Regions from separate parts of the Homo sapiens genome. Here region 2 is reported to be linked to region 1. The links are microRNA targets in miRTarBase. Many come from high-throughput screens and were not tested one by one. Region 1 holds a microRNA gene; the other region holds the end of a gene's coding sequence.

Region 1 (4,000 bases):
TCCTAACTTGGGCCTTCTTAATTTGAGGTATGTGAATGGGCTTCAGGAAATCCTGAATCTAATAAAAAGCTAAGGACTCTAGGGAGAGAGTTCAGTTTTCCATGAGCTTCACTGCCAAGTAAGACAAATAACACGTTTATGGATATATAAAAGAGACCTCAGAAGCCATCAAGCCATCAGATACTCAATTGTCCCTGACAACAACTTGCATTTTTTCCTTCTGTTAGAATTATATCCAAGTGCTGGAGAGTTGTCACCAACAACAGTAATATTCACTTGGACATTTAGCTCTAGTTTAAAGCACTGGAGAGAATTTGGTTTCCTGTAGTTGAATTTGCAGCGTTTAAAAAAAATATTAGCCTGCCTTATGATATTTTATAAGTATTTAGGAAGTAAAATTTTGGTTGAACAAAAGCCATAATTTATTTAACAAATATTTATATAGGGCTTACTATATGCTAGGCACTGTTTTAAATGCTTTATAATAATTAAGTCATTGAATTGTCAGAGAACTACCTATGAGGTAAGTGCTGTTCTTATATCCATTTCACAGGTGAGGAAACTGAGGCACAGACAGGTTGGGGAAGCAATCCAAATGAAGACATCAGAGGGTATTCACCCAGCAAGAGGCAGAACTAAGATCTAAATTCAGGCAGTCTGGATCCAGCATTTATGTTCCTAAACACATCTTTGCTCGCTTCCTGTTATGAGTGTGAAAAGAATATTCTGTTTCATAGAAGATGATCATCATCAGGTTTTACCACAAACCTTGCATTGGCTTTAGGAGTAAAACATAAATAGCTATATTTTTTCTAATTTCTTTATGTTAGTTCTAATAAACAATGTATTAAATACATATTTTTAGGGCATTACATGCATATTTAATTTGACCAAGCTGATATTATCGGGTTTCATACTCCTTTTTTGCATCAGTACACACATTCAATTTTATATTTGACTTTTTTTTTAATTGCACAGGGAGCCAATTGGCAGCTTTGGATCAAATTGGCTTACATATATGTTTTGGCCAGCATGACGTTTAAGAATTTATTTCCTTCCTTCCTTCCTTCCTTCCTCTCTTTGTTTCCTCCTTTCTTTCTTTTTTTCTTTGACAACATTTACAAATTGGGAAATTGACCATGAAAGTCTAAATTTCTGGCTTCTTTTTGAAAAGACAGAAGGAAGCATTGGGTTTGCATTCAGGCATGGAAATATTAGGCTGGACTGAGAAGTGGCTGACCTTTTAGATGAAGTTTGTGTTCCCCAGTTGGCCATAGTTTTTACCAGTTTGCTTTGCTTGATATCTGCATGCATTTGGGTTACGGCAGTTGAATGAGGTATGCATGTCCTTAGAGGCCAAGAAACAATTTACTTACTGACTGAGCTTTAGCATGAGAGAGCATAATGACATGTGAGTTACCGGTGAATCAATTACAAGAGGTACCCAAAGGTAAGCGTGCAGTTGAAAGTTTCATATACAAGTGGTTGTAAATAAATAGCCTATAACTAAAAAGTAAGAATCATGGTAATGGTTAAATGTTCATTGAATACATACTAAGCACAAGATTTCTTATAGGTATCAGTCCCTTTAACTCTTGTAACAAGCCTAGGAAGTAGAAAACTGAGACAGAGGCAAGCTAAGTAACTTGTGCAAGATCACCAGCTAATAAACAGCGCAGTTAGGACTTCAGTCAGGCAATCTGGTTCTGGAATCTGTGGCTTATATTATGCTATACTTTCTCTCTAAAAACTCTGAAAGAACTCTCTAGTACTGGCAGAGAATGGGATTTACTGGTTAATTCATATGATGGTTTGACAATTGCTGTGTGAATTATCAATTGTTAGGAGGTAAGACCAGTTGAGAACTTTAAGCAGTACTTCACTGGGGTTTGGCAAATTGGTAGAGAGACCTTGAATCTAGAATCTAGTGCTTGACTTTATAGGCCCAGAAACCATATTTCACCCATTTGTAAAAATCATAATATAAAATCACCAGTATGTTTGTAACCCAGAAGTACAAAAAGTGAATAAGGAATTTGAGATGCCATTATATACAGAGGTGAGTGGTAAGGTCTGGTTTACTGGCATCCTGGGAGCTCCTGGCCAGAGCAGAAGGTGAACATTGTCAAAATTGAAACAAGGGATCAAGAAAGCCAGGCCTGCCTCCAGGTTGAGGTAAATAGTTCAAATTATGAAGTTCAAGCAGCTACAGAATGATCTGTTCCAGGGGTTCAAAACTTTTTTGTGCATCAGACTCACCTGGGGGAAGTTATAAAAACAAACAAACATAGAAATGTTCTGCTTTATATTTTTAGACCTACTAAAGCACCTACCCTGGAGTTCTAGTGAGTTACTGAGCTAATTCTGTTGCTTCTGGCCCACTGATTGGTATTTGAGAAACACTGTTCTAGTTGGAATTTGCCTTTTGAGAACGTTAATGCATAGTATCAGATAGATACGAGAGTGATAGATTAAGATGATAGCTATGATTCCTGTATTAATTAATGCATGAAAGTGTTAGCCAGCTTATGGCATGACCCTCTCACCTGATTTCTACCAATCTCTCCCCAGAAAGAAATCAGCTGAGGAAAGGTTGGTAGAAATCAGGTGAGAGGGTCAAGTCATAAGCTGGCTGAGTTGGGGAGTAGGCAGGGGTCCAGTCCTGGGAGAATCAGTGCAGAAAGCAACTGAGGCAGTGCCAATGTTTAATGAGAGGCTTATAAAATTGCCACAAAGTGAGGCCCTAGCTACATGTCATGAGAACTCCCTGGCAGAGGGGAGAAAGCAAATTTGGATTAGAATGGGAGGTATCAGCTAGAAAATCAGAAATCTGACCAAATAATGATAAACATGATAGTTTATGAATTAGGAAGCAGGGAAGTGAAACCCTACCCCACAAATGATAGATTAGGAAAGATTTGAGATGAATAGTAGAAAAGATAGTGCATAAGGTCTCCTCTGCTCTCCCCAGAACTGAGGGATGATTAAAGTTAATAGCATTTGTTGGGTTCTACTTAATAAGTACAACTTTTTGGATTTATTAAACCAGTTGGCATTGGTTGTGTTATGCTATAACAAACTCCAAATCTCAGTGGCTAACAAGGAAGTTGACTTCTTGTTCTTCTGACAACCCATGTGTTGTCCCTGCTTTGGGTCCCAGGCTGATAGAATAGTCGCTATCAGGAGGATGCTACCATGGCAGGGACAAAGAGAGCTCAGAGGAAATCATGCCAAGAGATAAACATTCAACAGGAAAGTGGCATACATTGTTTGTGCTTTCAGTTCATTGGCCAGAATAGTTACATGGCCTCCACCAACCACTGGGAGCCATAGAGTGCTATGTGCCGGAGGGCAGAGAGCTGGGAATATTTAGTGAGCAGCATTCGGTACTACCATCTTTCCCTCTGAATAGGTTAACAGCCACAAGTCCTGTCACAATTTTTAGCAATTTCTTCAATGTCAAGAAGAATTATATTTCTTAGCTAACAGAGGTGGTGTAGTTTCAGGGTGCCTGCCTGGCCTATCTACAGCACTGTCAGCTCCATGCTCACCCTTGCTGAAGAGATGAGTCTCTCTGTTCAAGTTCGTCTAATGTCATAGCCTTTTCCCTGATTGGACCAGGGACCAACACCTATCCAGGTGGCTGTCAATCTGTTGGCTAGCCTGTAGGCAAATGTATTTTCTGAGACACAGAGTCTCTAGTCAAATGGATGTGGGCCTATGAAGTAAATGGGTCTGTAGACTTGGGCCCTGGGCATTTTGATCCTGTCTGTGGACAGTAGCCAATGATCATAGATGAGGAAGATTATATGCAGTTGAGACAAAGAGAGAGAAACTTCTATCTTCAGTGGTTCCCTGGATCTCAGCTCCTATTCCTGGGAGATTCACCTCTGCTTCATTTTTTGTGAAATGGCTTTATGGCCTTATAATAAATATTCATTTTATTTGAGCCACTTTATTATCCATATGAATAAATTGAGAAGCCTAGTCACTCTGCCTC
Region 2 (4,540 bases), not on the chromosome of region 1:
CTTCTCAGCATAACGAGACCCATGTCCCCGTTCTCATCTGCTGATGTTGTACCTTTTCCTACAGTTGACGTGACCCTGAATCCACACACAGCTAATTTAAATCTTGTCCTGGCTAAAAACCGGAGACAAGTGAGGTTTGTGGGAGCTAAAGTATCTGGACCTTCCTGTCTGGAAAAGCATTATGACTGTAGTGTCCTGGGCTCCCAGCACTTCTCCTCTGGTAAGCATTACTGGGAGGTAGATGTGGCCAAGAAGACTGCCTGGATCCTGGGGGTATGCAGCAATTCACTGGGACCTACATTCTCTTTCAACCATTTTGCTCAAAATCACAGTGCTTACTCCAGGTATCAGCCTCAGAGTGGATACTGGGTGATTGGGTTACAGCATAACCATGAATATAGGGCCTATGAGGATTCTTCCCCTTCCCTGCTTCTCTCCATGACAGTGCCCCCTCGCCGTGTTGGGGTTTTCTTAGATTATGAGGCTGGTACTGTCTCCTTTTATAATGTCACAAACCATGGCTTCCCCATCTACACTTTCTCTAAATATTACTTTCCCACTACTCTTTGTCCATATTTTAATCCTTGCAACTGTGTAATTCCTATGACCCTGCGTCGTCCAAGCTCTTGAATATTCTTCTGTTCCCACCCACTTCTGATAAGTACCCTGAGGCTTATCAGCATGTGATTCTCCCTTCTGATCTTCTGTTTTTCTGTGTTCTCAATTCTTTTGTTGTTTTTTGGTTTTTGAATCTTTTTTGAGATGGAATCTCGCTCTGTCGCCCAGGCTGGAGTGCACTGGCGCAATCTCGGCTCACTGCAACCTCTGCCTCCTGGGTTCAAGCGAACCTCCTGCCTCAGCATCCCAAGTAGCTGGGATTACAGGCACCCACCACCATGCCCAACTAATTTTTGTATTTTTATAGAGATAGGGTTTCACCGTGTTGGCCAGGCTGATCTCGAACTCCTGACCGCAAGTGATCCACCCGCCTCGGTCTCCCAAAGTGCTGGGATTACAGATGTGAGCCGCCGCGCCCAGACAGTTCTTTCGTTTTAAACAGTTACTCAGTACTAGGATGCACCCAGTGGTGAGAGTAAGCATCTTTGACTGATGACAGGTCTTGAGGTGGATAGGGGGCGCTTTCAGTATTTTGCCATTAAGCATAGTATTTGATGCAGGTTTTTTTTGATTGATGCAGGGGATCAAATTTAGGAAGTTCTGATCTGTTAATTTACTACAAGTTTTTGTATAAAATGAAAACTCGTATTCTACCTATGTCTTTTCTGTAAATTATTGAGACAATTGTGTATCATTTTTGTTCTGTTAATGTGGCTTAGTACATTGATTTACTTCAATTTGTTACCACAACTTGCTGAAATACACCATTATTATTTGTTGTATGCAATACTGGATTTATTTTGATAACGTATTGTTTAGATTTTGTTCTCATCTATGTTAATGAAAGAAATTGGCCTGTATTTTTACATTCTTGTAATATCTTTGCCAGGTTCTATAAAATGCAATAATAAGCAAATAAATTACTTTGTTTTTGTATAAGTATGTATAGGATTGAGCTCTAAAACCAAACCATTATAATGATAATTTGGGTAGCTTCAAACTCAAATTGAAGAGAGTCTTCACTACAATCTTCACTACAACCTTTGGCCTTCCTCTCTACATTTAAGAGTAGCAATAGAACAATAAAAAAAAATACGTCTTTCAAATTAATTGCAGTAAAAACAAAAGAGTAGTGGGGAGAGAAAAACAATCCAATACATATTTTTCTCTCAGAATAGAAAGAAAACACAAAGAGAAAATATGAACAATATAAAGCACTTAAAGGAAGAGGATGATTTCTTCCAGCTTTTCCACACTCTCTTTATGCGCAGGAACAAACAGCTGTTGAGTGAGCTGCTATGACTTTGGTAGAGAGGTGCAATATGTTTTTTGAACCAGCTATAAAAGAAATTAAGAGGTACATGTGAGGGTAGAAACAAATATCAAGGATGAGAATGGCACTGGCTGTCCCATATGGTATCCAGGAGCCACCAATGTCTGTTGAGTACTTCATACATGCCTAGTCTGAATTGAGATGTGCTCAATGTATAAAATATATACCAGATTTCAAATACCTACTTCAAAAAATAATGTAAAATATCTCACTAATAACTTTTCCTTTGTGTATTGCAATGATAATATGTTGGCTCTATTGGATTAAATAAAGTATGTTATTCATTTTACCTGTTTCATTTTACTTTTTTAATGTGGATACTAGAAACCTTAAAATTACATATGTGGCTTACATTGTATTTCTATTGGACAACTCTGGAGTAGATCCTATAATGAAATTTCTGTCCCTAAGTGAGCCCTAGTGTAAAAGCCTATGGACTCAGGATACAGAGGAGGTTTCAAGGCACATATGTTTATCTCTACAGAACCTGCACCTTCCCAGCTGCCCTGAGGCATTTTTATGGAAGGTAATGACAGAGAAAAGAAGATCTCAACATATCTAGAAGTGTAGAAATTTGGAAGATCATAGAAAGGGCTCATGACCAGAGAATGATTCTGCAGACTCTGGCCCCTGCCGTTAGTCCTCAGTCTGTTGGGCACTTGAAGCTCCTTCATGGTTTGATGAAACACTGATTTGTTATCAAGGCTCAGCTTGGGTGTCTATGGTGAGATAAAGTAGTGCAGATTATAGTAAAAGCTCACTACTGGTTTGTTCTAAGGCACCGTTTTATAATATTTGGGAGATCATATCTGTGGAAGCCCAGAGGCTGGATGCAAACTCCTTATCCTGGTCTGCGTTTCAATTGGAAGAGATATAAAAGGAGATAGGGCCAGCTGACTGGGACCTATGGGGCTGGTGGAAGTTCAGGAAAGAGAAAGATCTGCTGGAGTAGTTATCCCCTTCCCACTTATTTTCCCATATAATAAGTAAGTTCTAGGCAAAAGAGTTAGCCCAGCTCTCTTCTGTAAACTCATTTTACAAGTAAATTTACTTTCCAAGTGAATTTACTTTATAAGTAATTTTTCTTTTTTGTCACCAGAGTTCTAGGGATGTGGTATAGTTATCCTAATATTTCCCAAAATGTGAGTGCTTGCTAGAGCCGATATTTAAGTTTGATGCTAACTTAAAAAGAAGATTTTGGAAGGGAGAGGGACTTTCTTAACAGCTTTATTGTGATATTTACTTCTTTATAAGTAAATTCACTTGGAGAACCCAAAGTATTGTCCAGTGAATGACTTTAGATAATAGTGAAAGCCAAACTAAGTACTTGCTGGAATTCTATAGGTAAGACCTGGGGAAGGTTGCTCAATCTGAGACTTGGGGACAATTATTAGGGTAAGTTCACAGCTCTGACCTTTTCTTGAGGGGTTATGGGGGCTTGACAGAGGCCTTCTGTTCTTGACATGTGATAGAGTAGGCTCAACTACTATGAAAAAGAACTCTAAAAATACATAATGGATCAAATACTAAAGAAATGTACTTCTTGTTAATGTAAAACAATCGGTCATGAGTGTATGTAACTGGTGGTGAGTGGCACTGTTCCATGTGGGATTCATGCACCAAGCTTGCTTTCATCTTGTGGCACTTGCTGTACCCCAGAATGGTAACAGCATGAAGCTGGCAGAAAGGTGAAGAAAACTTAGGGGAGAAAACGTGCTTTTTAAATCCTTAGTTCATAGATGGGATTCGTAATATCTGCTCATTTTCTATTAATGAGAATAGCCATAGGGCTAAACCTAACTGTAAAGATTTTTTAAATGTCTAGCTGTATGCAATCATGTACAATCAAATTTCAAGGAAAAGAAAACTCAGATTTTGGTGGAAACTGCCTGGAACCCTAAGTAATCCTTTTTCCCATTATAGAGGACTCAGGATCTCAGCTTTTTTCTGGAACTATGTTAATTCCATTCTATAGCCTAAAGTTTGTAAAAGAGAACTGTATTGTCACTAAAGTTCTAGACATGTGGTATAGTTATCCTAATATTTCCCAACAAGCGAGTGCTTGTTAGAGCTGGCATGTAAGTTTGATTCTAACTTAAAAATAATCTTTTTAGGGGAAGAGGACTGTCTTAACATTATTATTGTAATATAACTGACATATAATACATTTCATAAAGTATATAACTTGATACATTTTGACTTGTGAAACTCATCACCATCAAGGCAATAAATCAGATGGGGTTCTTTTTTGTATATATAGCACTTAGAGCTATACATTTCCTTCTGTGGCTTTAAATGCATCTCACAAATTTTGATATATTCTCCATTCTATTCAAGATTCTATTTTCCCTTTTGATTTCTTCTTTGACCATTGAATTATTTAAAATTATATTTTTTCCCAAATCTATGAGGATGTTCATATATCTTTTTGTTATTGGTTTATAATTTAATTTTAAATGGTCCAGATACAGACTTTATATGACTTGAATCCTTTTTAATTGTATTGAGACTTGTTTTACGGTAAAGGATATGATCTATATTGGTAAATGTTTCATTTGCACTTGAAAGAAATGTGTATTCTGTGGTCCT

Evidence for each region. Region 1 holds the annotated microRNA hsa-miR-5186 (AGAGAUUGGUAGAAAUCAGGU, at 2,545-2,565, opposite strand). A microRNA usually pairs through its seed, bases 2 to 8, with sites in the 3' UTR of a target mRNA and lowers its output. Matches are read on the target gene's strand: a 7mer-m8 pairs with bases 2 to 8, a 7mer-A1 pairs with bases 2 to 7 and ends in A, and an 8mer does both.
Region 2: miRTarBase lists TRIM6 as a target of hsa-miR-5186. Seed matches in the 3' UTR shown: 7mer-m8 at 804-810.

Annotation. Positions count from the first base shown.
Region 1 is chr3:151,563,360-151,567,359 of GRCh38, forward strand. It overlaps MIR5186 (microRNA 5186), which reads right to left and starts at 2,636; the gene lies at 2,517-2,636. The region is part of intron 1 of LINC02066 (long intergenic non-protein coding RNA 2066); the gene reads left to right. It also overlaps a transcript of IGSF10 not described here.
Region 2 is chr11:5,610,713-5,615,252 of GRCh38, forward strand. TRIM6 (tripartite motif containing 6) reads left to right here. Exons shown (of 8, transcript NM_001003818.3): 8 at 65-2,240. The coding sequence ends at 630. The region is part of intron 7 of TRIM6-TRIM34 (TRIM6-TRIM34 readthrough); the gene reads left to right. It also overlaps a transcript of TRIM5 not described here. Among named protein-coding and RNA genes, the nearest start is that of TRIM34, 12 kb to the right of the region's middle.